Linked DNA regions of Homo sapiens: all the other regions are reported to be linked to region 6. Evidence: microRNA targets listed by miRTarBase, many of them from high-throughput screens and not tested one by one. Region 6 holds a microRNA gene; each other region holds the end of a gene's coding sequence. Distances are between the middles of the regions.
Evidence for each region. The annotated mature microRNA hsa-miR-1468-3p reads AGCAAAAUAAGCAAAUGGAAAA and lies in region 6 at 2,769-2,790, shown strand. An mRNA with a match to its seed (bases 2 to 7 or 8) in the 3' UTR can be bound and repressed. Matches are read on the target gene's strand: a 7mer-m8 pairs with bases 2 to 8, a 7mer-A1 pairs with bases 2 to 7 and ends in A, and an 8mer does both.

Region 1 (5,075 bases), not on the chromosome of region 6:
CCTCAAACCTTACTACACAAAAGATAATTCATACTGGAGAGAACCTCTACAAATTTGAAGAACATGGAAAAGCTTTTAACCTATTCTCAAACATTACTAACCATAAGATAATTTATACTGGAGAGAAACCCCACAAATGTGAAGAATGTGGAAAAGCTTATAACCGATTCTCAAACCTAACTATACATAAGAGAATTCATACGGGAGAGAAACCTTACCAATGTGCAGAATGTGGCAAAGCCTTTAACTGCTCCTCAACCCTTAATAGACATAAGATAATTCATACTGGAGAGAAACCTTACAAATGTAAAGAATGTGGCAAAGCTTTTAACCTATCCTCAACCCTTACTGCACATAAGAAAATTCATACTGGAGAGAAACCCTATAAATGTGAAGAATGTGGCAAAGCTTTTAACCAATCCTCAAACCTTACTACACATAAGAAAATTCATACTTCAGAGAAACCCTACAAATGTGAAGAATGTGGCAAATCCTTTAACCAGTTCTCATCTCTTAATATACATAAGATAATTCATACTGGAGAGAAACCCTACAAATGTGGAGATTATGGCAGAGCTTTCAACCTATCCTCAAATCTTACTACACATAAGAAAATTCATACTGGAGAGAAACCCTACAAATGTGAGTATGGCAAAACTTAATTGATCCTACAAGCTTACTACACATAGGAAAATTCATACTGGAGAGAAACTACAAATGTGAAGAATGTGTTAAAGCCTTTAACAAGTCTTCAACTTTTTCTGCACACACGAGGTATTTTATACTGGTGAGAAACCTTACAATGTAAAGAATGTGGCACAGCTTTTAACTAATCTTCAAACCTTACTGAAAGTTGAGAAAATTCGTACTGGAGAGAATCCTACAAATGTGAAAAATGTGGCAAATCCTTTAACTGATCCTCAACTTTTACTAAACATAAGGTAATTCATACTGGAGAAAAGCCATACAAATGAGAAGAATGTGGCAATGCCTTTAATCAGTCCTCACACCTTTCTACACATAAGATAATTTATACTGGAGAGGAACTCTATAGTTGTGAAGAATGTGGCAAAGCTTTTAACCAATCCTCATACCTTACTATACAGAAATTCATACTGGAGAGAAAGCCTACAATTGTGAAGAATGTGGCAAAGCTTTTAACCTTCCTTAACCCTTAACTGTAGATAAGAAAATTCATACTGGAAAGAAACCCTACAAATGTGAAGTCTGTGGCAAAGCTTTTAACTGATTCTCAACTCTTACTACATGTAAGAGTATTTATACTGGAAAGAAACCCTACAAATGTAAAAAACGTGGCAATGCCTTTAACTGGTCCTCACACCTTGCTACATATAAGACAGTTTATACTTTGAGAGAAACCCTGCAAATGTGAATAATGTGGCAATACTTTAAACCAATCCTCAAACCTCACTAAACATAAGATAATACTGAAAACTTTACAAACCTGAATGATGTGACAATAATTTTGACAACACCTCGAACTTTCTAACATAAATCATACTGGTGAAAAATCCTAGAAATGTGAAAAATATCACAAAGCCTTTAAATGGTTGTCACACTTGATTGTAGGTAAGAATCCATACTGAAGAAAACTCCTGGAAGTGTAAAAAATGTGGCAACACTTTTAATAAATGCTCACCCCTTATTGCACAGGAAAGCATTTATACTTCAGAAAGATTGTACAAATACAAGGAATGTGGAAAAGCCATTATTATCTGCTCAGATTTTACTCAACATTAGAGAGTTAGTACGTAATAAAAGCATTATAAATGCAATTTTTGTCAAGAGATCTTTCAGAAAATATAAGCCTTTAAAGTGAAGAAGAGGAGCCAGTTGTGCTGGCTCACATCTGTAATGCCAGCACTTTGGGAGGCCAAGGTGGGTGGATCACCTGAGGGCAGGAGTCTGAGACCAGCCTGGCCAACATAGCAAAACCCCATCTCTATTAAAAATTTTACAAAAATTAGCTGCGTGTGGTGGCAGGCCCCTGTAATCCCAGCTAATTGGGAGGCTGAAGCAGGAGAATTGCTCAAACCTGGGAGGCGAAGATTGCAGTGAGCTGAAATCACACCACTACACTCCAGCCAAAGCAACAAGAGCAAAAACTTCGTCTCAAAAACAAAACAAAAAAAGAGTATTCATTGTGAGGACAAACAATACAAATACGAAGAGGGTTGTAGTACCTTTACTTGTATCACAGATACTTTTGTACCCATTTTGCACTAGAGGAAAACCATGAAGCAGTTGCTCAAATGTTGTTCAACACCAGAAAATTTATATTGGAGAAAAGCACTGTAAATGTAATGCATTTGTGAAAACATTTTTTAAAAAACTACAGCTTAGAAAATACCAGAGGCCTCATACTAAAATATATTTTTGCAAGTGAAGTAAATATAAAAATAATTTAATCCAAAATTAAGTCTATATAAATATCAGAGAATTCACAGTAGAAATATCTAAGGTACTGACACTTCAGACATTGCTGAGTATAGAATCAGAATGCTGAGTATAGAAAATAATTTAAAACTAAAGTTGGTAGGTAAATAATGTGTATATAACTTTAAAAGAAGTAGAATTTTTTTGTAGATGTATAATTACATTCAAATTATATTTTTTCTTGAAAAATTAGTTTTTGAAAAGCAAATGATGTAATTCAACTCAAATTCATGCTCTTCATTCCTATTGTATTCACATGTGAAAGCATGTGATTAATTTTTCATGCATCAAAGATATGAGAAATCATTTCTGTTAGGTCGGTATTATTTATGACACTTTCTATGAAAGAATAAGGACATTAAAATGTAAGATGCATGATGAAAACCTGAGTGAAGAGGCTGTTTGTGTTTAACTTATAATATTGAGTGATCCATGAAGTAGGTTTTCAGAGCAATATTCTTCTGCATTATAGTAAGAGAAAACCATTTTTAATCTTAGTTAAAATTAAAGTGAATTAGTAGTATATCATTTTACTATTTGTACTTTTATGTAATAAAATGCAATGTGTTTAAAAATTTTTGGATTATGCGTGAACTTAGTTTTTTAATTAAACTTTTTTTAACATGTTAAAACTATTGTGCATTCAATGAAGTGTTTTCATGCCACTGACTTTACCTATCCCACATTACTCAAGGGTTTAGGTAAAAGAGGGTAACAGTATACTACTTGATAACATAATGGGCTAACATCTCTAATAATTATTTTTGCTAGTGACTTTAAACTGCTAATAAAGAATATTGTTCCCATAGGTTAGATTTTTATTCTTTTTAAAATTTAAACTTATTTCTCTTAATTTTTGTGGATACATAGTATGTGTATATCTTTATGCCATGTATGGCATATTTTGATACAGGCATATAATTTTATGTATTAATCACATCAGGGCAAAAGATGTATCCATCAACTCCAGCATTTCTCCTTTGTATTACAAACCAATTCTGCACTTTTAGATACTTTAGAATGTACAGTCGTTACTACAGGGTCATTTTATGGTTATAATAAAAATTATATACAAGTATAAATAAACCATGAGAAAATTCTGAGTTCTGAATAAACATTTAAAAAATGTTATATATTTTTCTTTGAACATGTGACCTCTCTGCCTGCAAACATACAGCATTTTAGTTTTGATTTACATACACTTAACTATACACATATATTACTCTAAAAATGAACCTTAGGTATGAGAAAATTATGGAGCAAGTAAGTGTGTTTGTGTATTAGCTTGTACCTATTTTCAGAAGACGAGCAATATTGGAACAAAACTAATCTTTTTTTTTTTCGAGACGGAGTCTTGCTCTGTCGCCCAGGCTTGGAGTGCAGTGGTGCGATCTCGGCTCACTGCAAGCTCCGCTTCCCGGGTTCACGCCATTCTCCTGCCTCAGCCTCCCGAGTTGCTGGGACTACAGGCGCCCAGCACCACGCCCGGCTAATTTTTTTGTATTTTTAGTAGAGACAGGGTTTCACCGCATTAGCCAGGATGGTCTTAATCTCCTGACCTCGTGATCCGCCCGCCTCGGCCACCCAAAGTGCTGGGATTACAGGCGTGAGCCACCGCGCCCGGCCAAAACTAATAATTTTTAAAAGGTGACTAATTTACTAGACAACTGAAAACCTCAAAAATGCTGAAAGCAAATCTATACCCTCTGCTTTGCATTGAATTCATTTCTGTAAAATCTGGCTTACGATTTAGAATCTCCCCATGCAAAGTTTTTGTTTATACTTGCGTGATACTCATGCTACACCTTTAATTTTCTTGTTACTTATGCGTTTTTCTTTTATAATTTATCAGGTATTCATCATGTGAGCTGGTCATGGATTATAAGAATGATTTTTATAAAGTTTAGGAGTACACACAAAATAACTTCTAGATGTGTTTCCAAAATTTGTGTATTATATTTTATTTAGAACATTCTATTTCTTCTTTCCATTGTAGAATCCTATATAAGCCTACTTTTCTTTAGTTAGTATTCTTTTGTCTTGTTATAGGTGACATAAGTAAATTTATTTATTGAGCTAGTTCAGGTAAGAACTAGAAAGACTTCATAAGTCATGAAAATGTTTTTATATATAGATGTAGCAAACAAACATGACATTGCTTATGGTGTAACAGATGCTCCATAATGAGCCATATGTATTTCTGCTGGTGTTAGTTTGTAACTAACTTCAAGTCAGAGATGGAAAATATTAATAGTGAAGAACTAACATTGATTTTTTATGTGGAGAGAACATTTTTTTTCAGGCTGCAAAGCTGAATCTTGCTGTTTTTTTTTTAATTTCCTAATTATCTTCAGTTTTGTTTATCTTATGTGTCTTCAGTGTATTCAACACAGTCCTTCTTTTTCTGTGTTATTGCCACAGTTTTCTCACTGTTGTCTTCATGCCATGTCAATTCACATGGTACTTTGTAGGCTTTGATGAGAAAGTTGGTATTTTTTAATGCACTGAAAAATTGGTTATAACTAGAGAGTTTGCTTATCAATATAACTTTCAGATTAGTTAAGAAAAAAGGCATTTAATGTCCACAGGTGAGAGGATTAAATCAGCATTGTTTTCCC
Region 2 (5,075 bases), 72 Mb from region 6:
AAAACTTAGGAAAATATTATTAAACATGACAATGGACCAATTTTCTTAGCTTACAAAAAGCTCATACAAATCAATAAAACACATACCACCTAATAGAAAACAGAACATGACTACACATTTCACAGGAAATATCAGTAATCAATAAACATGAAAATGTGTTCCATCTCCTTCATTAAAATGTACCAGACCTTCATTAAAATGCATTAGAACTTCATTAAAACGCAAGATACCATTTATTCACTTTCACATGATCAGACTTCAAAAGTTTAGTACCCAGTATTGGCATGGGTTTGGTAAATAATCATTCTCATACATTATATGTGGAAGCATACTGGGCAAAGATTTCTAGAGGACAATTTGGCAGTAACTACTGAACTGAAAATAAAAAATACCCTCTGATCCAGCAATTGTATTGCTAGGTACACTGTAGAATAAAAACTCATTATATGTACAAGTATATTCACCACAATGTGATTTAATATTGGAAACAACCTAAAGAGCCTATCAGTGTTTGAACATTTGTAACACATTCAAACATTAGAATACCACACAGCCGCTAAAAATAATGAGGTATTTTTATATATACTGATACAGAAAGATCTCATAAAACACAGGTAGCAAAAAAAGCAAGGTACAGAAGAGTATATATAGTCTGATTCTATTAATGTGAAATTTTTAAAGTACAAATTTGCTGATAAAAAATAAAAAATTGTTTTCCTGTGAGTACAAGACACTTGAAACTGGTTACTTTTGGAGAGGAGTATTAGGGTAGGAGGGAAGGGACCAAGTTTTTATACCTTTCTGTACCATCTGATCTTTTCGCCATGTGCATACATCATCTTTCTTGCCCCCACTCCCCTTTCTAAGAACACTTAATTAACAGGTTATTTTGAGATATTCCTAGGTAGGTTTGAATACCGGTGGTGTTATTTTTCAAAATACTGTAGATAAGTGCCAAGTTTTGCAATTTAGAACTTCCCCTTGGATTTTCATTAAACTTTATATTTGCTTCCTTGATGCTTTAATCATAACGATTTCCTATTAAGTATAAAGTGACACTTTCAATGGGAGTTTGGCTTTATAACAAATTTGTGATGGAATCATTAGACACTGCTGCTCAAGAACCCATTTTTACACCCCAAAGGGCATTTGATGATTTATAAACATCATCAAGATTATACATTCTATTTTGACTATTAAAAACATAAAACTGCAGTAAGATTTTACATGTACAATTAAATTATCCATTGAATTCAGTAAAACAGCATCACAGTAGAAAAATACAGTCATAAAATTAGCTCTTACATTTTTCTGGGGACAGAAAAGCAGAAGAAATGAGATTAAAAGTCCAAAAAAAAAAAGCCCAAAAAACACTACCAAAAACAGGGTGAGACAATCATTTATTTATTGGACAGGGCAAGGTCATTTAAAGATTGGAAACATATCCCAAAAACACGTGTTTAGTTTGGTGTTACAGGCATTGATGCTCACAACAAACAACATTATTCAATACATCATGTAAACAGGCCACATACAACCAGGAAGATGCTGTCAAGCCACTGAGAAGCCACAATGCTTAGAAAACAATCATTAGGGAGTTACAGAGAATAATCACCTCCAACTCATTGATATGCATATTCTGCGGCTGCACAGTATTTGGCTGGTTCCCTGGTTATTAAGTGAGTCGTTCCGTATTTTAAAGAGCCTTGATTGGTACACACTTCTGAATATCACTGAAATCAGTCAAGCAAAGGCTTAACTAGCTCACATCATATTTTTGAACTACCCTAGGCAATAATTGACTGTCTCACAGTACTGTAGATAAAATTCTGTACTTAGCATATTTAGCAGTGTTACAACGCATCCAAATCACCTTTAAGTCCTATGGTACATACTTGAAAAAGACAGCAGAAACTCACTGGAGTAAATGAAAAAAGAAATTTGGGGAGCTCACCTGGCCTGAGGTATACAAGCTGCTAGCAAAGATAGACACACGTGAAAACCACTTTGTCAATTATTTGCCAAGTCATTTGGCCTGATTTTTGGCCTGATTTTTAGCCTGATTTTTAGCAGGACTCTTCCCGACTGAGGAGGCAAAGATTTCAACATCCATTCTAGAGACTAGCCACAGTATTATAAGTAGTAATATATCATAAATGCTTGGTTATGAGGAAAAACTACTCAGCATAAGATTCACGGAGAAAAACCTGTTAGGTATCTGGCCCTCTTGCCTGAAATCTATTGATTTTACCAACCACTCCCTTTCACAGCAATAAGAGTTCTCAAGATGAGAAGAATTTTCTCACTCCATATAGAAAATCATATTTGGGAAGCCAGTCCCAAAAGACCGAATATTGTAGAATTCCATTTATATGAAATGACCAGAATAAGCAAATCTACAGAGAGAGAAATAGATTAGTGGTTGCCAGGGGCTCGGGGATGGGGTGGGCACTGGGAGAAAATGAGAGGTGACTGCTCAAGGGTACAGGGTTTCTTTTTGGGGTAACGAAATGTTCTAAAATTGACTGTGGTCACGGTTACACAACTTTGTGAATACACTAAAAACCACTAAATTGTACCCTTAAAATAAGTGAATTGTAAGGTATGTGAATTATATCTCAATAATGTTACAAACATATTAAGAAACGAAGACATACCCCAAAGAGAAGGAAACAAGAGGCTCTTCCAAACCAAATCGTACCAGAAGAAAACAGTAGCCAAGTCTGATGGAAGGAGCTTGTTTCTTGCATGCTATTTTATCATCATCACTTTAACCCGATTTCACATTTTTAATTCATTTCTAAATTATTTTAGGTTATCGGCAGATTTCTAACTTTGTTCTCATTAGAGAGCAGAGTCAGTGTTCCGCAGACAGACTGGGCTGGCGTAACAAACCAAAACTAAACAACAATAAAAACCCAATGAAAAATAATCTCATGCTTTGGGGCTATGTGTTACCAGTCAGAAGAGAAGAGCTGATGTCCATTTCTAAAGGAAAATAAAATGCCTACAAGTACAATGGCATCTTATGACTCATGCCTAAAGCACATTTCCTTTTCAAACCTGCATACAGTTATTCCCTTTTTACACCTATACAATTCAACAAAAGCAATGTTTTTATACCTGTACAATCCAAAAAAAGCAACGTTCTCTACAAAGAAATGTTGAGCTTCCTACAGCTCTCTAGCTCAAAGAGCTAGCCAATTTCCTTAAAAGTAAAATTACTGTTTCTAAAAATATCAACTCTGTATCCTCATCCTCACTTTCAGCAACATACAGTGAAGATGGAAAACTTGAAGACTGCTATAAACCAGAAACTACAAAACAATTTCTTAAATGACCTGATTTTCCTAAAAACCTTAAAAACATTAGTTCCAAATACTGAGAATATATTTGGCCCAATTCCTTTGAACTCTGTCTTTAGATTAATGACGAGTTTCCTTTATTTCACTTATTCACTAGTTTAGTATGAAATAAACAGAGTTTGAATCAGTTAAACTGGCTAATGACAATTTTCCTCAATGATTTTTCTTCTGCATAGGCATGATAATGAAATCACAAAAGGTCTTCAACTAGTCTTCAACTATTCTTACACTATATAATCAATTAGGGAAATTTTTACAGACAAATGAAGAGAACACAAGTAGCTTTACAGTAAGTTGAGCCTGTTACATATATTTGTTCTGACAAAGAATTTCTGACACAAAAATTGCTCACTGCACACAGAATCTCAGAGAAATGATGAAACAAGACAGCTGATGGTAGAAGGTATATGGGAGCAGGGTAGGGTGAAAAGTCACAAATAAATTAAAAACTGGCAAGTACTTCTGAAGCAGAGCCACTTTTTAGGGGACACAAGAAAAACTGTTAAATCACCATTTTGGTCTCATCAGGGAAGTCCATTTGTTAAGAATTGAAGACCATTTTACTATAATTCATGCTGCAAAACACAGCAGTCACACAGTATTTCCAAAAGGATTCCAAAAATTGTAGTGCAAAAGAAAAGAAATCTAAAAAAATAAATAATCACAAAAACCACCAACATTTTTCAAGGAAATGTGTTCAAAACAGTGGCTTTTACAAAAGATGTGGATTTGTTTTAAATGAAAAAAAAAATAATTCCTATATGAAATACCAAAGACTCATTTCACATATAACTTACACTGCATTAATGATTGGATTAACAGTATATAAACAAGGGCCATGGTTTTTTTTACTAAAGTAGGTCTGAAAGATCAATATAAATACTAATGGGGGCAGGGAGGAGTGTTTTATACCCCAAACTCCAATATTCCAGCTCTGTGTCCTGTCCTATTATTATAATTTGTAAAAATCTTAACGACGCAGTGATTCGAGTTTTCGTAACTTCAATGATGTGTTAGAGGACAATGCATCTTGGTTTGAAGAATTTGCTGTATCCGAAGGCCGGAAAAGTACTCGACCACGATGATTAAATACATAAAAGGATGGGTGATTCCTTAACGTATCAAATGTCCTTGAAAGAAGAAAAAAGCATCAATTTTAGATAAACCTTTATAAAACCCTACTTGAAAATAAGTAGGCTTCTAACGAATTATCAATTTACTATGGGTTATATTTTTTAACAAGTATTAATACATGAAATCAGACTGTAAATAATAATTATACTGTATCTCTTTTCCTATATAAAGAAAATAAGAAACCTGGAAAAGCAGCATATAGCTCTCAAATTTCTTCTTTTTAAAAAAAATAGAGATAGGGTCTCATTCTGTTGCCCAGGCTGGAGTGCAGTAGCACAATCATAGCTCACTGCAGCCTCAAACTCCTGGACTCAAGCGACCCTCTCATCTCAGCCCCCCAAGTGCTGGCACTACAGATGCGCACCACCACACATGGCTTTCTTTTATTATTATTTTTTGTAGAGACAGGGTCTCCCAATGTTGCCCAGGTGGTCTCAGACTCCTAGGATCAAGCAATTCTCCTACCTCAGCCTCCCAAAGAGCTGAGATTACAGGTATGAGCCATGATGCCCGGCTTCTAATATTTTTTTTTATCCAGCCATTCCTTCCAGAATGCCTATGAATAACAACACAAAT
Region 3 (5,075 bases), not on the chromosome of region 6:
AAGGGGCATTTTACAGAGTGATATGGGAAACCACTGGAGGCTTTATATATTAGAGCAATGTGATTAACACTTTAAATAGATCATTTTACCTACTCTTCAAAGAAAGGATTGTGGCAAAGGCATGACAGACAGAAATCAGACTACACCTACCAGAAAAGTGATAGCTGATACAGGGAAATTTGATGAGCTATAAAAGCAGGCAGGGTAGGAATTTTCTCCATACTTAGACTGGGTTAGAATTATATTGAACATAGATGGCAAAAGCAGAAGGGAGAAGAGGACACCTGGAATCAAAGAGCCCAAGCAGTTTTGCATGCCTTAATTATGAAAATCTTGTACTGTTCAAGATTTTCTATAAGGTACATACATTATTGAAGATATTGTACTAGTATTAGTTAAGAAGCATTCTCAAACAGCTATCTTTTGAACTGTGTTTGAGAGTGGTAGAATTCAAACTTCTGAATATTTGAGTGCGTTCCAATATGAAGTCTGGATTGCAATGGTAAAAATAAATCCTATTTGCCCAACACATATACTACACAAAATGTTGTAAGGGCCAGTAGACAAGAGGTAAAATAACTTGTCAAGTCACTGTGGAGGAATGATTTAAAATGCAGAGCTGACATGAAGTCCATGTTCCTTCCATGTAATGGAATGTTCAAATGATTACAAAGCCAGGCTTTGAACAAATGTTAAGTGTTCAAATGGTTAGAACATCAGGCTGTGGCTTCCAGCCTTAGAGTGAAAGGGATGAGGGGCTCAAGGCCCACACAATGAACGCTGCTCCGTTCCTATTTCCACATAGGGAAGTGATGCTCCCCTTCTCAAACCTCATGCACATTCTGTCTCTCCAAACCCTTCAGTATGCCCATGCATAAGACCCTCAATATGTCCATGCTTTTAACTTCATTTTAAAAAATCTGGTATGTAAATTTTGAAACTTATCTTCATAATCTATTACAGTTCATGATGAGTTAAGAAATGGCTCTTAGAACAAATGATTGTTATGATATTATTTTTGGAAACTCTCATGAAAACTAAATGTTTTAAGTAAGCTTTTGATGCAGACTGTGGTGTTAATAATGGGGTTATAAGTGGCAATACTTAAAAGCTATTAAAGCAAAACCTAGAACTTCAGTTCTAAGAATTAGTCATTTTTATGTTCGCTTTGTTTTAAAATGGGAACATGGTTAAGAATTTCACTGGTCTTTAAACTAAAGATACCAGCTGCAAAGGACAAATGTAATGTTCTATAACATGAAAGGACTTGTACTAAAAATCAGGATTTTGCCGGGCGCGGTGGCTCATGCCTGTAATCCCAGCCCTTTGGGAGGCAAGGCAGGTGGATCACAAGGTAAGGAGATCGAGGCCATCCTGGCTAACATAGGTGAAACCCCGTCTCTACTAAAAACACAAAAAAATTAGCCAGGGCGTGGTGGCAGGCGCCTGTATTCCCAGCTACTCAGGAGGCTGAGGCAGGAGAATGGCATGAACCTGGGAGTGGGAGCTTGCAGTAACCCGAGATCGTGCCACTGCACTCCAGCCTGGGAGACAGAGCGAGACTTCATCTCAAAAAAAAAAAAAAAAAAAAAAAAAAACCAAAACGGGATTTAATTTGTGGGTCATTTAAAGAAAAAAAGTATCAGGATCATTAGGACAAATAACATTTTCATTGCTGTAATGGGCCAACCAAAACATGAGACAGAGAACAGAGGGAAAAACAGATACAAAAGCCAGTGAGGTACAAGCACCAATGGATAAGAACTGAGAACTCAGTAAAATACCTGGTGGATGAGGCAGCAACCTAGTTTTCAGTTCTAAAATAACAGTCTGGGTGTCCAGGCTTCTAATTCCAGACAAGTAAAAAAATTAAACCTAAATCTGATCAAGCCTCAAGATCTACCACTTTACCACACAGTGGACAGAAAAATGTGTTCAGTGACAGCACAGAGTTACAATGAACAAACCCAGGAGACAAAAAATTCTTCAGGACATGACCCAATTTCTTCAAGTAAGAAATATGGAGAGGCCTGTGGTTAAAGCCGATGCAACATATTTGGACTTTGAACAAATCAGTTAAAACAAATTAGAGATGAGGGCTCTCTGGATACTGACAGGGGTAGTATGGCATTACTTTTAACTCTTACAATAAAGCTATATGGTTATGTTTTAAAAATCCTCAACCTTGTGGACTGAGACACTTGGGAACAAACTTTACTTGTATGGGATTTTCTTCCCAATAGCAAGGGTGGGAGGTGGAGTGGTGAACTGGTGGGGTACAGATTAAGTTTTGCTATTTTGGAGTTAATAAACAGGTATTATTGGTATTGCACAACTTTGTTTCTCAAAATAAGTTTGAAAATGAGTATTACTTCTAGAGAAAGTGTTTAAATAGCCATAGAGTGGCATGAGGTTAACATCCTGACAACTTAGAAAACGGATTCAGTAACAGACAATAAGATAAAAATCAAGACCCTGAAAAAGATCTTTGCCTAGCCCACAAAGCCACCTCTAAAAACACCTTTAACATACAAACCTCATTCCACATGCAGGTGTATCCTCCACAACTCCCCATCTTCACAAACAACCCTCACCCACAGCACTCCTATTTCCAAGCAAAGATTAGGGACATAAGTAATTTCAACACTATTAAGAATTTAATACTTGGGAGGCTGAGGTGGGAGGATCACTTGAGGCCAGGAGTTCGTGACCGACCTGGGCAACGTAGCAAGACCTCGTCTCTAAAAAAAAAAAAAAAAAAGTTAAAAAAAAAAATCAACATTAATTTGCTAACAGGGCCTTTGCTGACATTTGCCTTTGCCTTTCTTCAATGTCTATCTTGTAGGGGAAGCAAACTGTTCAGCATTTAGAAGCAGTTAGCTTTTCAGAAATATCTATTTATAATTCAGCAATGTGTATTACAAATCAGGCAGAAAGAAGTCTTAATGAACTATCTACCCTCTTTCAAGCATGAAGTGGCTAACTTTTGCTGGGTCTTGTTAGTTTCTGGTTAGTCTTTATAGTTAGAACTATAACTGATTTAAGTAGCACACCCAACACTTTTATATCCTAATGAATCTTAATCTCCTTCAAAGTAGTTGCCTTGTGAAGCTATTTTTTCCAGCCTCCACCACCTGCCATTGGTGAACACATTTTAAGTCTTTGGAATCTCCTCTTCAGAAGCTGTAACTTTATTTTTAAAAATATCCTTAGCAGTAATACATCTTCCTCTTTGTGGGTGTATTTTATTTCTTGAAACAGCAACAAATCACTTGGAGCCAAGTCTAGTGGACAATTAAAGTAGGTAAAATAAATGTAATGGAGACCTTAGTGTAATTATAAAGCGATGCAACATTTTGACTCTGTAAACTGATTTCCAAAATGTTGAAAAAAATAGTAAATGTGAGTAACTTGAAAACATTCATCTGGATAGAAATTCCGGCTTTTTCATCAAAACTTCACTTCTTTGTGATCAGCTTGTATTCTATCAACCACTCAAGTTCAGGGGCCTCACATTTTCTCCTAGCCTACGTAAAAATCGTAACATTAAATGCCTAAATTATACAGAACTGTTAAAGCTCAATAGTTACTAAGTTTTGGTTCATTCAATAGGGTACCTCATTTCAGAAATAGTACTTAAATCTGACTCAAAATTACCTTATGACACCATTCAAAAGCAAATCAGGTTTTTTGGTTTAGTGCTAAAATATAACATTTAATGTCACATTGTTGGGCGACTCCCATTTACTTTTTCCATATATACAGTGAAGACTTACAATAGCTCACAATGCAGTTAAGAATTGCATTTTAATAATCTCAAACTACCATCTAATGGAGGAAAGAATAAGTTTGTCAGAAAACCAGTACAGCCATTTTGCTATTAAAATTTTCCTTTTTAATAATTTATTTAAATAAGGTATTTGAAGCAGTTTAGAAAAAACAAGATTTGTATTTTATTTCCTTGTAAAAATCTTTACACATGCAGACAAACCAGTGTTAAGAAAGTATTCACCATCATTTAAACAAATAACCACTTAAATAGAACAGTGTCTGCAATTTTATCTGTATAAAAATAAGATACATTTTTACAGAATTCACGCTCCAGTTCTTATAGCAATAAACAATACACAACTATAATAAAGTACAATTGAACCTGACCATGGTTTTTAATTAGATACTGCTAGGGCATTTTAATGTGCAAAAAAATTAACATAGTTCTTTTCAAAAGAAACTGTCCTCAGTGTTCTAGAGACCTAGAGGGTTTCAAGAAATCAAATCCTAATCAGTTTGCGTTTAATGTTTTTGATTGAGTCCATACATCACACTGTAGATAGGCAAAACCAAGAACTGATGCAGGCTCAAAGGAAGAGAAAGTCAGCGCCTGTGCCTGCCATGTCCTGAGCGACTGCCACCATGGTGCTTGCTTTTATGGGACCTCTCAAAGGAGCGAGATCGTTCACGCCTGTCCCTATGATGTCCCCTTTCATGCCTGTGTTTCTTGGCTGCATCTGAGTGATCCCGAGACTTGCTCTGAGATCGAGAACGAGATTTTTTCCTTTTATGACCATGTCTGTTTGAACTTTTTAAATCATCTCTGGTATGCTTGGCCTTAAGGTGAGGAGAACCATGATTATGATGTCTTCGAGGGCTTTCACTGTGACTGCGGGACCTGCTTCTTGATCTCGAGCTGTATGTTCCAGATCGACTCCGCCTATTATTATAGCTTAGATAATAAAAATTTGAAGTTTAGGTTCAGTTTCTATGGGGAACAGATTATTCCGGTGGTTGCTCATAACAGGTTCAAAACAAAACTACCAGCTACATAAATGACAAACCAGAACTTTTCAAAATCTCCCCACCCCTCACTGCTGTATGCCCAAGCCTATATATAACATATTAAATCTTAAGCAAATGTTCTTATGTCTTTATTCCAAGGGGAGTAATTAGCAATTTTTATAGTGTCCTAGAGCTATGCTTTTTATTAAGTATCTCCCACATGTTCAAAAGACATTGAAGAGCCACGAAGAGCTAACAATCTAATTACAGGCCTAACTAAAGAAGATTCATTGACTGGT
Region 4 (5,072 bases), not on the chromosome of region 6:
TCTACTAAAAATACAAAAAATTAGGTGGGCGTGGTGGTGGGTGCCTGTAATCCCAGCTACTTGGGAGGCTAAGGCAGGAGAATCGCTTGAACTCGGGAGGCGGAGGTTGCAGTGAGCCAAGATCGCGCCACTGCACTCCAGCCTGGGTGACAGAGCAAGACTCCGTCTCAAAAAAATAAATAAATAAATAACAACAATAATAAAATTTTTTATTATTTTTAATTTAATTAATTTATTTAGAGATGGAATTTCGCTCTTGTTGCCCAGGCTGGACTGCAATGGCACAATCTCGGCTCACTGCAACCTCTGCCTCCCAGGTTCAAGCAATTCTTCTGCCTCAGCCTTCCTGAGTAGCTGGGATTACAGGCATGCGCCACCACACCCGGCCAATTTTGTATTTTTAGTAGAGACGGGGTTTCTCCATGTTGATCAGGCTGGTCTTGAACTCCTGACCTCAGGTGATCCGCCCGCCTCGTCCTCCCAAAGTGCTGGGATTACAGGCATGAGCCATGGCACCCAGCCATAAAATTTATTTTTTATATTCTACTAATAAATGCTGTTGTACTTGGGCATGATCAATCATATAACTGTCATTTTTTGGTTTTATGCTGTTTTGGTTTGGTTTTTGCCAACTATATTCACATTTACAAACTAACTAAATAAAATCATTTTATTTAAAAAAAAAAGTAGTCCCGAACCCTTCCACCCTTCATTTTCCACTCCCAAGATGTAACCTTTTCATCTTTTAGCCATTAATAACTTGCTTATACTGCAATTTCTTGGTTTTAAAAATTTGACATTTACTGACTTCCCACTATAAGGAAGATTAATTCAGTTTTTGCATACCTGTGACAGTCGGACCCTCAGGGTTGTCCTGTGGCCCCCCACCTCCTGAGGTTCATATCTATGTAGTAAGGAATTTAACCTAACCCAAAGAAAAGTCTCACCTTTGCCCTTGGCTTCTGAAAGGTAATGGCTGAATTCTTGGAATGTGCCAGAAAGTATAACAATGTGATTTATGGTGGGGTCTTTGGGTCATGGTATCAGCTTATACTGTTTGCCTTCCAGAGGAGCTGGAGACTGAGGTTAGACATATGTCCAGCCAACCATGAGCTGCAGTAAGAACTCTGGACATGGCTCAGGTGAGCTTCCCTGGCTGGCAATATTCTGCGTGTATTGGCACACATTGATGCCAAGAGAATAACATGTCCATGACTCCACCAAAAGACAACAGAAAGTGCTGTGTTTGCTACTCTCTTAAACTCTGCCTTACGCACTTCTTCCTTTGGCTGATTTAAACTTGCATGCTTACTATATAATAAACTGCAACCATGAGCATAGTGGTTTTAGTGAGTTCTGTGAGTCTTTCATCAAACCTCAGGGTGGTTTTAGGAATCCCTTGAAATTGCAATTGTTGACAGAAATGAGGGTGGTCTTATGGGAACTGTTTTCCCCCTAACTGTATCGCTGGCATCTGAGACAACAAGAACACCCTTGAGTGATTCCTCTCCTCTTGGGTATGAGAGGGACCTTTGACTTGCTTCCAATCAATAGAATACAGTACAGGCAACGGACTGTACATAATTATGTGTATGTAATTGTGTTAAACAAGTTTGTAGCACTCCTCTTGCTGGAGTACCTCCCTTGCTGGCTTTGAAGAATCGAGCTACTGTTGTGGGCTGCCTATGTTGGGAGGCTCACATGGTAAGGAACTGAAGACAGCTTCTAGGAACTGAGGGCAACCTCTGGCTGACAGCAAGAAACTGAAGCCCTCAGTCCTACAAATGTAAAGGAACTAAATTCTGCCAACAAAAATGGTTCCTTCTCCAGTCAAGCCTCAGATGAGGCTACAGCGCTGGCTGACGTCTTAATTATAGCCTTGAGAGACTCTGAGCAGAGCCACACCCAGAATTTTGGCCCACTGAAAATGTGAGATAATAAATATGTGTTGTTTTAAGCCTCTAAGGTTGTGGTTAATTGTTACACAGGAAACTAATGTAATCTCCCTACCACTGTCACCATACAGGAACTAAGCCTATTGTCCTATCCTAACCACAGAGTGGGTAATCATAATTTCTTTCTTTCTTTTCACATTAAAAAAGTTTTTTTTTAATTTTTTTTTTTTTTTTGAGATGGAGTCTCGCTCTGTCACCAGGCTGGAGTGCAGCGGCACTGTCTTGGCTCACTGCAACCTCTGCCTCCTGGGTTCAAGCGATTCTCCTGCCTCAGCCTCCCAAGTAGCTGGGATTACAGGCACGTACCACCATACTCATCTAATTTTTGTATTTTTAGTAGAGATGAGGTTTCACCATGTTGGCCAGGCTGGTCTTGAACTCCTGACCTCATGATCTGCCCGCCTTGGCCTCCCAAAGTGCTGGAATTACAGGGGTGAGCCACCGCCCCTGGTTTTTAATTTTTTTAAAGTCGACAACAGTCCATAACTTCAATAAGATTAATAGTCAATGGTTACATTACTATGACTTTGTCAATACTTAAACAGCTGAGCAATATTCTTATATCAGACTTTTCTTTCATGCATTCATTTTTCTTATGGAGTTAAAAATTGCTTAGATTGGCTGGGCACAGTGCTCACATCTGTAATCTTAGCACTTTGGGAGGCTGAGATGGGTGTATCACCTGAGGTCAGGAGTTTGAGACCAGCTTGACCAACATGGTGAAACTCTGTCTCTACTAAAAATACAAAAATAATTAGCCAGGCATGGTGGCGTGCAACTGTAGTCCCAGCTACTTGGGAGGCTGAGGCAGGAGAATTGCTTGAACCGGGAGGAGGAGGGTGCAGTGAGCCAAGATCGTGCCACTGCACTCCAGCCTGGGCGACAGAGTGAGACTGTCCCAAAAAAAAAAAAAATTGCTTAGATTATTTTATTTGCATAGTGGTTTATTTATCATTAATTGTCCCCAAAACTCTTCAAATGTCTAATGTTTCTCTTAGTATGTTCAAACATAGTAGGCTGTTAAACAAGATGTATAAAGCAAAAACCATAAAAAATTCAACTCCAATTTATTCTCAAAAGCTTGAATGAGAAAAGAAATCAACTCCATTAAAATTTAAAAATCTTTACAATAAACAAAACAATACAAAACAAAAAAACCTTGTTTACTAAAAGACACCAAAAAATGTGCAGACAACCCATATGGCAGAAGTTATTTGTTACACAGACAACGAATGAAAGATAAATACCCCAAATATATTAAGAACTTCCCAAAACAATGAGAAGAAAACTAACCCATAAGAAAATGTGCAAAATATATGAACAGGAAATATTTAACAAACAGCAGTTGCCTCTAGGCTGAATGCTACCTAAAATAAAAAAAGTGTTACTGAAAGTAAAAATAAATAGATAACAGAAAATAAGTTAGGTTTTACATTTAGTCACGTATATTAAAATAAAGTATCTTATGTTTTCTTTTAAGATTATGTATTTCAGCCAGGCGTGGTGGCTCACACCTGTAATCCCAGCACTTTGGGAGGCCAAGGCGGGCGGATCACAAGGTAAGGAGATCGAGACCATCCTGGCTAACATGGTGAAACCCCATCTTTACTAAAAATACAAAAAATTAGCCGGATGTGGTGGCGGGCACCTGTAGTCCCAGCTACTCGGAAGGCTGAGGCAGGAGAATGGCATGAACCCAGGAAGCAGAGCTTGCAGTGAGCCAAGATCATGCCACTGGACTCCAGCCTGGGCGACAGAGCGAGACTCCATCTAAAAAAAAAAAAAAAAAATTATGTATTTCCTGGCCAGGCACGGCGGAGAGCTGTTTTTCAGTAAGAACTTGATGAATTTAATTAAGGCAATATGTACTTTATCTTTTTTTATTCCAACCTAAAAATGTCATTTATTTATTTATTTGCCTGCATGATAAAGCAAACATGGTAATGTTTTTAGATTTCAAATACTACTTTTGCTTCTTATTCCTTGACTAATCTTTTTCCTAGGATAGTCAATCCTTTATACTGATTAGAGTTTATTACAACAAACTGAAAACTGAATAATTATTTACATTCATTTTAGTCAATTATTGCTGTGACAAATTTCAAACATTCCAATTATTACAGTCACTAATTTTTGTTATTTTGTTGCTTTTCTAAAAAATTATTTTAATAATTTCCTAATTTATTTTTCTTATTTATTTATTTATTTTTTGAGAGGAAGTCTTGCTCTGTCACCCAGGATGGAGTGCAGTGGTGCCATCTTGACTCACTGCAACCTCCACCTCCTGGGTTCAAGTGATTCTCATGTCTAAGCCTCCCGAGTAGCTGGGATTACAGGCATGCATCACCATGCCCGGCTAATTTTTATATTTTTAGTAGAGATGGAGTTTCACCATGTTGGTCAGGCTGGTCTCAAACTCCTGACCTCAAGTGATCCGCCTGCCTCGGCCTCCAAAGAGCTGGGATTACAGGTGTGAGCCACAGCGTCTGGCCCCTTTTCAAATTTTTCTTGTATTCTCCAGGATTTAGGGTGACTCTAGTTCTTAGATCTTTCTAAAAATACAATCTCAAAATTCATCAAAAACTGGAAACTCATTGTTTCTTTCATATTCAATTTGCTTTGTCAGAAATTCCTTACTTCTTTTGTCAATTAAGTTGCTAGAGAATAGATTGAATTCAGGAATAAAATAATTCTCAAGTTTTTCTGTCCTGAGGCACTGAAGAAAGTATGTCACGCAGTTATCAAAGCAGAGGCCCAGGTCTTTGCGGTCCCACTGACTGTCTTGAGGGTTCTGGGTACATACGTGAAAGAAGGCAGTTTTCACATGATAAGAAGAGAATTTATCCAGATGTTTTTTGTCTTTAAACCTTTCTTTCAGCTGTTCTAAAAGGTATTTCATTAGTTTTAAACAATCTTTCCTGTTGAATAAAAAAGGAAAACACTTATTTTTACTTATTTACATTCAACAAAGGATTTTAGGCATCTCATAGCAAAAATATAAACAATAAAGATATATAATAACATAAATATAGGCCGGGCGTGGTGACACAACGCCTGTAATCCCAGCACTTTGGGAGGCTGAGGCAGGGGGATCACCTAAGATCAAGAGTTTGAGTC
Region 5 (5,075 bases), not on the chromosome of region 6:
AAAGGGGCGAGAGAGTCGGAGTCGGAGCCGGAGCCGTGAGCAGAGCTACTCGAGGTCCCCATCCCGATCAGCGTCTCCTAAGAGGAGGTGTGTGCCTCAGGGCGCACCCAGGAGGCCGATACCGGGGTGGGGCTGTCCCTCGGGGTAATCATTCTCACCCTGAGGTGGTTTCTTGTTTCTCTAAACCTGGAGCTTGTGTGTCTTGTCTGAGCTCCTGTGGGTGTGTGGGGCCTGGCCGGGCCAGATGGTCACACGTGTGGTGGTGCTGTTCTTCCTCCCAGGAAAAGTGACAGCGGCTCCACATCTGGTGGGTCCAAGTCGCAGAGCCGCTCCCGGAGCAGGAGTGACTCCCCACCGAGACAGGCCCCCCGCAGCGCTCCCTACAAAGGCTCTGAGATTCGGGGCTCCCGGAAGTCCAAGGACTGCAAGTACCCCCAGAAGCCACACAAGTCTCGGAGCCGGAGTTCTTCCCGTTCTCGAAGCAGGTCACGGGAGCGGGCGGATAATCCGGGAAAATACAAGAAGAAAAGTCATTACTACAGAGATCAGCGACGAGAGCGCTCGAGGTCGTATGAACGCACAGGCCGTCGCTATGAGCGGGACCACCCTGGGCACAGCAGGCATCGGAGGTGAGGCGGGGTTGCAGTGACTGGTGGCCGCAAGCCCTTCCCTGGGGAGTACCTGATGGCTGCCCTTTGACCCCCGGTGGCTGCCCTTTGACCCCCGGGTGTGCTCTCAGCGCAAGTGGTCCTAGAACAGGATTCTTTTTGGAAATGTCTGTCGACTGGACCTTGGTGGATTTGGAAATGGAACTGAGGGACCGGTGACACGTGCTTCAGACCGGTCTGGGGTGCGGCGCACACCTGGGCCCGTGCAGGGCTCAGCTCGGCAGCAGCTCTGAGGGCAGCTCAATGAAAAAGTGAATGCACACGCCCTTGTTGGCGTGGCCTGGCATGGCCTGGTGCTATCGGCAGCCGCTCTCCACTCCCCGACTGATACTCAATTACGTGAAGCCAAGAAAGATGATTTTTAGAACCTTTGCCTATATTAGGTTGTACTTATGTACATATTTTGCAGTGTTTCACAGGAGAAAGTGGCCTTAACTGCCCCTTATTCTCTCTCCACGTTGTAAATAAACATGTGTTTAATACAAGTTAAAGCTATGTATGAAAACTCAGAACTTGAATCCCGTCAGCTTAAAACTTGTGTAGGGAATCCTGACTTTTAAAATGTGAGGGTATTTGGATCTGTGTTGAAAGTCGTATATTTTTATCTGTGCGGTGCTGAGTGCAGGCCACCAGCTCCTAAATAGAGGTTCCCTATATGCGCGTATGACATGGTGAATAAACACAACTCTCTCCACTCAGGACATCCGGAGCGTTATGGACGTGGTAGGTGGTCGTTCTGTGTGCTTGTGAAAGTGTCCAGGCGTGTGCACAGCCAGTGCGCCCACTTCCGGGCTCCTTGCTCCCTGCTGTACTGAAGTTTTGGATTTTGCATCCAATCCTGTGTGCCTGCCCTTCTGCCGAAGGCTTGTGAGGGGCCTGAGTCCTCTGCCCATCAGGATGACAGGCTCCTTCCTGCAGGGCCATAGGAGGGAAGTTTTGGAAACACAGAATGATTCCAAGGTGCTCTCGTTCCTGAGGGGGACTGGTTTGTAACCCATGACATCTGTGGGCGAGAGAGGCAGCTGGGAGCAGGACACTTGGAGGGTCACCCCACGGGGGTGGCACCTGCACTCTGAGTGCCCCCCACTGTCATCAGCTGCCTCTTACCGTGGACACAGTTTTGGTTTTGGGGACTAGGGGGCCCCACTCCTGGTGGTACCGTTTGGACTTACTAGGGCAGTGGGACATATAGGCCGGGGCTAGTGGGATAACGGGGAGTTACGCCTGATGACTTTTTTGATGGAATCCTGCATTAGATAGCTGGTGGGACCCCCCCTCAGAATTGGGGAACTGAGGAGACTCCAGGGAGGGTGTCCTTCCAGGGAGAGCAGCTATGAGGGGCCCCCTAGCTTCCTGTGCCTGGAAGTAAGAGAACCAGTAAAGGGCCATACACACCTGTACCCAAGAGACCGCTCTCCATTTGCTTTCTTTTTTTACTAAATAATTGTAAAATATTATTATGACATAAAGAACCATTTAAGGCCAGATTTTATGTTCTCCTAATTTGCATTGCGCCCAAATGGTGTTGCAGTAGAAAATGAGTTTTGGCCGCGTGGTGGGAGGCCGGGCGCGGTGGCTCAGGCCTGTAATCCCAGCGCCGTGGGAGGCCGGGCGCGGTGGCTCAGGCCTGTAATCCCAGCGCCGTGGGAGGCCGGGCGCGGTGGCTCACGCCTGTAATCCCAGCGCTGTGGGAGGCCGGGCGAGGTGGCTCACGCCTGTAATCCCAGCGCTGTGGGAGGCCGGGCGCGGTGGCTCATGCCTGTAATCCCAGTGCTGTTGGGAGACCGGGTGCTGTGGCTTACGCCTGTAATCCCAGCACTGTGGGAGGCTGAGGCAGGCGGATCACGAAGTCAGGAGATTGAAACCATCCTGGCCAACATGGTGAAACACTGTCTCTACTAAAAATACAAAAATTAGCTGGGTGTGGTGCTGCGTCCCTGTAATCCCAGCTACTCAGGAGGCTGAGGCAGGAGAATCACTTGAACCCGGGAGGCAGAGATTGCAATGAGTTGAGTTGGCGCCATTGCACTCCAGTCTGGCGACAGAGCAAGACTCCATCTCAAAAAAAGAAAAAGCTGTTACCAAAAGCTATAATTTTAGGTTTTAGGGCAGTAAGCAAGAAAAGGCAAGACCAAGAGTCCGCTAGGGTGGGCCTCCAACCTACAATCTTAGAAGAAATGTCAGTGCCAAAACCGTGGGCCATCCAGAGGGTGACCAATAGCACCAAATGCCAAAACCCTGGGGTTCCCAAGTGTTGGCCAATGAGGGTGCACACAACAAATGCCAGAAACCCCAGAGCAGGTGGAAGGCAGCCAACAGTGTACCCCAAAGGCCAAGCTGGGGCCACAGAACGTGACTCTGGCATCTCAGGGTCAACACAACAGGACCTCTCACGGCCAAGTGTCCTGCCTTAAACAGTTGCCCTAATGCAGTTACTGGGGAGTAAGAGCAAAAACCATGAATGAAGCATACATTTCAGGACAGAAAATAAAATGGGCTGGGCACGGTGGCTCACACCTGTAATCCCAGCACTGTGGGAGGCTGAGGTGGGTGGATTGCTTGAGCTCAGGAGTTTGAGACCAGTCTGGGCAAAATAGTGAAACCCCATCTCTACTAAAGATGCCAAAAAAAAAAAAAAAAGGGCTGGGTGCAGTGGCACACTGACGCCTGTAATCCCAACACTGTGGGAGGCCAAGGTGGGTAGATCATGAGGTCAGGAGATCGAGACCATCCTGGCCAATGCGGTGAAACCCCGTCTCTACTTAAAATACAAAAATTAGCCGGGTGTGGTGGCACATGCCTGTAGTCTCAGCAACTCAGGAGGCTGAGGCAGGAGAATCGCTTGAACCCAGAAGGCAGAGCTTGCAGTGAGACGAGATTGCGCCACTGCACTCCAGCCTGGGCAACGGAGCGAGACTCCGTCTCAAAAAAAAAAAAAAAAAAAAACAAGGGAGTGAGCAAGAGGCAGGGAGATGGGAGAATGGAGGCGACTGGCAGTGGAGGCAACATGAGACAGCAAGACGTGCCGCGGTGGGCGATCAACGCTGCCACACGAACCAGAGGCTCTTTTCAGAACCATCCTCTTTTCTGGCCTGTGGTGGAGCCGAGCAGTGGGCGACGGCCACAGCACCGCCACCTCCTGTGAGATCTGTGCTCCGGCCAGGTCCCAAGTCCAAGGGCCTGTTCCCTCACGGCAGCCAAGCAGTGGATTTGGATACCCCATTGCTTGGCCACCCTGGACAGAACCACATCCTTCTCCCCTTCTCTTGGTTGATTCTCCTCTAACCCCAATTTATTTTTGTCAGCCATTTTACTTTATTTCTGAGACAGTCTCACTCTTATCATCCAGGCTGGAGTGCAATGGCACTCCCGAGTAGCTGGGACTACAGGCACCTGCTACCACACCCAGCTAATTTTTTGTATTTTCAGTAGAGACAGGGTTTCGCTGTGTTAGCCAGGATGGTCTCCATCTCCTGACCTCGCGATCCTCCCGCCTCAGCCTCCCAAAGTGCTGGGATTACAGGCGTCAGCCACTGCGCCCGGCCTCCTTGCTATCTTTGTCCTTTCATGACCACCAGATGATCCGTGGCCAGCAAGCCCCCAAATTAGGGCTTAGCCCATGAGGGTTCTTGTCTTCACCCAGGGAAGAATGCAGGTGGTAGTAGACAGCAATCTTTTTTTTTTTCTTTTTTTTAATCGGAGATGGAGTCTCACTTTGTTACACAGGCTGGAGTGCAGTGGCACAATCACAGTTCACTGCAACCTCTGTCTCCCAGGCTCAAACAGTCCTCCCTCCTCACCCTCCCTCTTGCTGGTGGACATTGTGGGTGTCCACTACTGCACCTGGCCCACAGCAATCCAACAGTCTTGCTCTGTCGCCTGGGCTGGAGTGCAGTGCTGCAATCTCAGCTGATTGCAACTTCCTCCTCCTGGGTTCAAGAGATTCTCCTGCCTCAGCCTCCCGAGTAGCTGGGATTACAGGCGTCTGCCACCATGCCTGGCTAATTTTGGTATTTTTAGTAGAGATGGGGTTTCACCATGTTGGCCAGGCTGATCTTGAATTCCTGACCTCAGGTGATCCGCCCACTTTGGCCTGTGCTGGGATTACAGGCGTGAGCAACTGCACCTGGCCCTCAGCATTCCTTTTATTGAACTGGAGCTGGTTCTCATGGGGCAAGGATAATGCCTAGACAGGGGGCCCAGAGCTGCACTTGAGGGCTGTTGACAACTGTATTTATATGCACATTTACTTACATTAAATTAAGGGGTGAGTTACAGGACTTTCTGCGAAAGAGGTGGTAACGTCTGGATTGTTACTGGATTGTTTTGAAAGGGGTGGTAACGTCTGGATTGTTACTGGATTGTTGGAAAAGTGTGGTGACCTCTGGATTGTTACCAGATTGTTTG
Region 6 (5,075 bases):
TTATCCCAGCTCAGCCACTAACTTACTTTGTGACTTTGGGAGCTCCTTCCATTCCCTGGGGCTATATCTTCTCATCAGTAAAATGAGACTGTTGGAGGAAATAATCTTTACAATTATTAAGGCCAACTCTGATATCTATGGATCAGTGATTCTTTAACACTCTTAGGTACACAATTAGTGTGTTCATTGTATGACTGGAGAACCTGAGTCACAGATAAGCTGGGACATGACTGTCTTTCTCTTCATTTTGCTCATGGCCCTCTACTAGAGTGGAGAGCTGGTGCCTGGCTAGGTACCAAAGAGGCTTCTGGGAGATCACAGGACTTCAAGAGAGTGAACACAGAGATTATGGAAACCCCTTTTCCAGATTTCTATTGTCCTGTCCTGAATTCTTACTGGCTTCCAGGCCCTGTGCTAAGTACTTTCCTTGGACAAATTTATCAAATCTTTGTAACTATCTTGTCAGCCCTATTCACAGATAAAGAAACTGTCAGGGCATAGAACATTGAATAATCTGCCCAAGTAAGTGGCAAAGCCAATAACTGAATACAATCCAAGTTGTTCTGACTTCAGAGATTATGCCCTACCAACTACATTATGTCTCCTCTAACTACTCATATGGTTCTAGGCAAATAGGTGCTCAAGACATAATGACTGGATTCAACAGCATCTATTTACACCTCTGGGATCAACACGTTTTTTGCAGGAGTCTCTAGGCACCTGTTTTTTGCAGGAGTCCCTAGGCTTTATATTAACACTGGCCTGTTTGCATCCAGATCCATTCTCCACTCTTCTCCTGAAAATTACATTTGTTAGATTTCCTTGCTTTCTCACTTCTTTTGTCCAATGGGAGACATGTACAGGAGATTGGTGGCTAGGAGGAAGGGAGAACCCAGGGTATTTCTCCCACCACCTGTATCAGAGAGGTGTTTTCTGGTGGTAGCTGTATTCCTCCATGGCTCCAGCTCCTCTTGAACAACTCTTCCATTCATGGCACCTGCTTCCAATAGGCTGTCCAACCCATGATTTTAGCTTCTGCATGGCTTCATCTGTTATCCGTCCATCCCTACGAGTGGTAGCAGCTTTCTGTGTTTGTTAAATGCTAGGTTGCTGCATCCTCATCCTCTGTCTGGCTTGTTAGCTCTGTAAGTGTCATGCATTAAATGCTCGCAGTTTAAAAGACCTAGGGTGGTTTTTATTTTCCTGATTGGACCATGACCGGCACAGATACTTTCCACAATTCCAGGGCTACTCACATCACATAAATTGGTTTATATCCTTCAGAGCACATATTACAATCTCTAAATATTTTTGTTTGTTTACTTATTTATTGTCTATCTCTCTTCTGTAAGTAGATTGTAAGGTCCATGAGGAACTTTGTCTTGTATCCTGAGCATCTGTCACAATGCCTGGCACACAGGGGCTAAATGATAATGTTGAATGAATGCATCCATCAAAAAATTCCAAGTTTTTATTGGGTATTTACTATGTGCCAGTCACTGTTGTAGAAGATGCAGAAATTAGTAATTCATTGCCACTGCTTCAAAAACACATAATGCCATTTAAGTGAAAGGGGACAGTAAAATGTTCATATGACCATTGTGTTAGTTCGCTAGGGCTGTGCCATAACAAAATACCACAGACTCTGTGGCTTAAACAACAGAAATTGAGTTTCTTATAATCCTGGAGGCCAGAAGTCTGAGAACAAGGTATCAGTGGGGTTGGGTCTTCTGAGGCCTCTCTCCTTGGCTTGCTGTTTAGATGACTGTCTTCTCCGAGTCATCAGATTCTGAGGTACTGGAAGGACTTCAACATATAAATTTTGGGGGAAAACAATTCAGCCCGTAACATCCAGGAAATAAAAAGATCATTTTTAATCGAGACAGTGAAATCGTAGTGCTATAGGAATCAAATGAAAGATGACAAAATCAGGGCCTGGAGGTATTCCTGGAAAGCTTTCTAAAGGTGGTGTGCCTGGTGCCAGATCTTGAACAGTCATGACAGTTTGAATGGGCTGGTTGGCAGGGGAGGTGCATCCAAGATACTGAGCATGAAAGAAGGCCCAGAGATGGGAAAGTGAGAGAACATTGTGGAATCACTGATGCCTGGGTTACCAGACTTGGGAGGGAAGTTGAAAGGTCATCCAGGGCAACCTCCCATTTGATTCAGGAATCCCTTGCCAAAGGGTCATTCAGCTTCTGCTTGTACACCTCCCATGATGGGGTGCTCATTAAGGTACTGCTTCTATCTTTGCCCAGCTCTGCATGGACAAAACAACAGGTTGGATGAAGTGCAGAAGTTGTGCTAAAAAGAAGAGGACAAATAAAGTACGTGTAACAGGCCAGTGATGTCTTCATGTCAATTATCTCCAGGAACTTCTTTCTAATATCATACTGTAACTCCTTTTACTTTGGTTGCAACCTCTGTTTTTGCAATTCTGTCTTTGCCTGACCTGCTCTTCTAGTCAGGAGCCTTGGATTCTTGTCTTGTTTGGCTGTGCTACTTTAAGCAGAAGTCTTTCAATCTCTGGGCTTCAGTGTTCAAGTCTGTAATGGTGGGCAATTAAGAATCCTTGTTGTGTCCATCTCATAGAGTTACTGTGAGGATTATAAGGGATAATAACAGATGTTAGTGTGACTGACAAAGTCAATTTTTAGCCTAAGCAAAGGTACCAGCCTGTGTTGTGTTCCCCAGAGTTGGGGGAATCATAAAGAGGTGGGTGGTTTCTCCGTTTGCCTGTTTCGCTGATGTGCATTCAACTCATTCTCAGCAAAATAAGCAAATGGAAAATTCGTCCATCAACAAGCTACCTTTCATGTTCCTAAGGGCATGAAGGAGAAGCCTGGAGTGGTGTGTGTGAGATAGAAAGGGAGAGATAGCCGAAAGAGGCTTGGAAAGCCGCAGAGGGTAAAGTCGAGGATTTATCTTTTTTTTTTCTTTAATGTGACCTTATGCCCCTTCCCTCTTCCAAACCTCCATTTATTTATCTATAACTTGGAGATACTAATGGCTGCCTCTACAGGGTTGTTCTGAGAAGTGAAAGTAATGCAGATGAAAGCTCTCAGATAGTACACAAAGAGAGAAGACCCTAGGGGAGTATGCAGAGGGAGGGTGGGGGAGGGAGGCATGAGAGTGCTGGCTTGGCTCCACTGGGGCAGGATCTTATTATTCTGGAGATTGGCACAACACCTCTGGTAACTTTGGAAAGGACTTTCCGCTGACTCGACACAATTGGGAAGCCCCACAATAAACAGCATCTAACTCCAGCGCAGCGGGAGGCAGGCAGAGGTAGCAGCTGCCTTCTCCTGGGCGGGCGGAGGCTATTCGCCCCCATCCTCTCCCTGCACCCCACCCCCACAGTTCTCAAGCCTTGGTGGGGGACAAAAGCAGCCCATTAGGACCCCCCCACACTCGCACCTCTCCCTGCCAAGACCTCTAGGAGCAGCAGGGCGGAGAGACAGAGCCTGCCGGTTGGCATGGAACAAACTGACTGAAGGCGAGGTCCGGGGCGGAGGGGATTGGGTTGTAGGGCTGTGGAGGAGGGGCGGCGGAGGGGGCGCTGGGGCTCTCGCTTGCTTCAGCCCAGCCCTTCTAGTCAGCCCGCGACAACTCGCGCCAGCTACGGGGCCTCAGAGAAGCCGGACTTCGCAAGCACCATGCAGTGGATAAGGGGCGGATCGGGAATGGTGAGTGCATGTAACCTTGGCTTCCCTTGCTTGAGCCTCTCAGTCCCCCAGCCCCACCTCCAGTTCCTCCAACGAGCCACAAGGCAGTGAGCACCCTGGCCTCTGCCCACCGCCCTAGCCGCCGTCCTTGAGACACCAGTGAGCTTGCTGTGGCCATTTTAGGAGTCCCTGCTAGCCTGCCTGCCCAGGAAACCCCCCTACCATCCCCCTCCACTTTTCTATCTCCCTCTGAGATTAAGGTGGAATAGGGGTGGGGGCCAGATTATGTGCCCAGGAACATCCCAGGGGTCACTTGGGAGGCCAGAGAGGGAAGGGGGATGGCAGAGGGCTTCTCTGGAAGCAGTGAAGCTCGCAGGAGGCTGACAAGCTGGCACGGGGTTGTGGGGGGAGGGGACGGTCACAAAGCCTGGAATTGTGGAGGGGGCCTTATGGGAGAGCTGCATGACTCCCCCCTGCCCCCAACTAGATTTTCTGCAACTCCTTTCCCTGGTCAGCCCCAGAGCATGAGGGCCAGAGAGCCACTCTCTCTCTCTCAGGAAGCTGCCTGAGGGAGCCCTAAAGCCCTTCCTTGTCCGGGCTGGGGTCACCCTGTCCACACTTGGGGCTTTGTCAAGGAGAGACAGCTGCAGAAACCCACATTCTGGAAATGGGCTTGGGCCACAGTCAGTTAACAGAGCTCTTCTCTCCCTCCCAAGGAGTGTGTGCTTGTGTGTGTGTTTAGTATAATCCTCCAACAGTTCATTTTATGCCATGGTGTTCCCTTCTCCACCTGGAGACCTTGGAATGACTTCCTTTTGCAGAGAGGAAGTGGTGGCTGCATTTTGATGCCTCTCTGACTTAGCCAGGAGCAGCTTAAGCCTGGTTAGGGCCTCTGGGGAGTGGGAGGCCCCCATGACTTTGTCCTCAGCTGGGAGGCATAAGCAAAAGGGCCTTAGAAGGCAGTTAGGTTGGGTCAGCAGGCACTGATGGCAATAGCCCACACTTCTACGCTGCCACCCATAACCCGCAGATGAAGGAAAGTAGCCTGAAGTGGTTGGGCAAAAACTGATATTTAACTCCATTTTTGCTTTCATTGTGGAGGGGAAGAGGGAATCTGGTGTGGGCTAGGACTATATTCAGAGGGGCTGTCCTCTTCCCTTCCTCAGAGTTTTGTTAGATCTCTGTTTCAGTGGTTCTTAAGGGCATCCGGTTCATATGCCTATGTGCTGGGGCTTCAAAAGACCCTTCTTCCCAGACCTCCCTACTTCCCTGAGGTCCCATTAAAGCTGCATCAAATGTTTGTAGAACCAGAAAAGATTAGAGCAGGTAAAGACCTTAGAGTCCTTGCTGTCCAGCCAGGAAAGCTGGGATCCAGAGAGTGGGAGAGACTTGCCCAGGACCACAAACTCC

Region 1: the mRNA of ZNF107 is a reported target of hsa-miR-1468-3p. Seed matches in the 3' UTR shown: 8mer at 2,236-2,243 and 7mer-A1 at 2,396-2,402.
Region 2: miRTarBase lists MMGT1 as a target of hsa-miR-1468-3p. Seed matches in the 3' UTR shown: 7mer-A1 at 3,994-4,000 and 7mer-A1 at 3,942-3,948.
Region 3: miRTarBase lists CCNL1 as a target of hsa-miR-1468-3p. Seed matches in the 3' UTR shown: 7mer-A1 at 4,197-4,203.
Region 4: miRTarBase lists CGAS as a target of hsa-miR-1468-3p. Seed matches in the 3' UTR shown: 8mer at 3,262-3,269.
Region 5: miRTarBase lists CCNL2 as a target of hsa-miR-1468-3p. Seed matches in the 3' UTR shown: 8mer at 1,069-1,076 and 8mer at 1,492-1,499.

Annotation. Positions count from the first base shown.
Region 1 is chr7:64,707,995-64,713,069 of GRCh38, forward strand. ZNF107 (zinc finger protein 107) reads left to right here. Exons shown (of 4, transcript NM_001282359.2): 4 at 1-3,583. The coding sequence ends at 662. Among named protein-coding and RNA genes, the nearest start is that of MIR6839, 31 kb to the left of the region's middle.
Region 2 is chrX:135,960,689-135,965,763 of GRCh38, forward strand. It overlaps MMGT1 (membrane magnesium transporter 1), which reads right to left. Exons shown (of 4, transcript NM_173470.3): 4 at 1-4,495. The coding sequence ends at 4,336. Among named protein-coding and RNA genes, the nearest start is that of MMGT1, 11 kb to the right of the region's middle.
Region 3 is chr3:157,143,867-157,148,941 of GRCh38, forward strand. CCNL1 (cyclin L1) reads right to left here. Exons shown (of 11, transcript NM_020307.4): 11 at 3,687-4,723. The coding sequence ends at 4,375. Among named protein-coding and RNA genes, the nearest start is that of CCNL1, 14 kb to the right of the region's middle. RefSeq lists a silencer at 4,751-4,900.
Region 4 is chr6:73,420,706-73,425,777 of GRCh38, forward strand. It overlaps CGAS (cyclic GMP-AMP synthase), which reads right to left. Exons shown (of 5, transcript NM_138441.3): 5 at 3,006-4,873. The coding sequence ends at 4,522. Among named protein-coding and RNA genes, the nearest start is that of DDX43, 28 kb to the left of the region's middle. RefSeq lists a silencer at 881-1,175.
Region 5 is chr1:1,382,789-1,387,863 of GRCh38, reverse strand. CCNL2 (cyclin L2) reads left to right here. Exons shown (of 11, transcript NM_030937.6): 10 at 1-87; 11 at 282-2,153. The coding sequence ends at 633. Among named protein-coding and RNA genes, the nearest start is that of AURKAIP1, 10 kb to the right of the region's middle. RefSeq lists an enhancer at 4,759-5,075.
Region 6 is chrX:63,783,727-63,788,801 of GRCh38, reverse strand. MIR1468 (microRNA 1468) reads left to right here and starts at 2,715; the gene lies at 2,715-2,800. ARHGEF9 (Cdc42 guanine nucleotide exchange factor 9) reads left to right here and starts at 3,588. Exons shown (of 10, transcript NM_001353921.2): 1 at 3,588-3,686. The coding sequence starts at 3,657.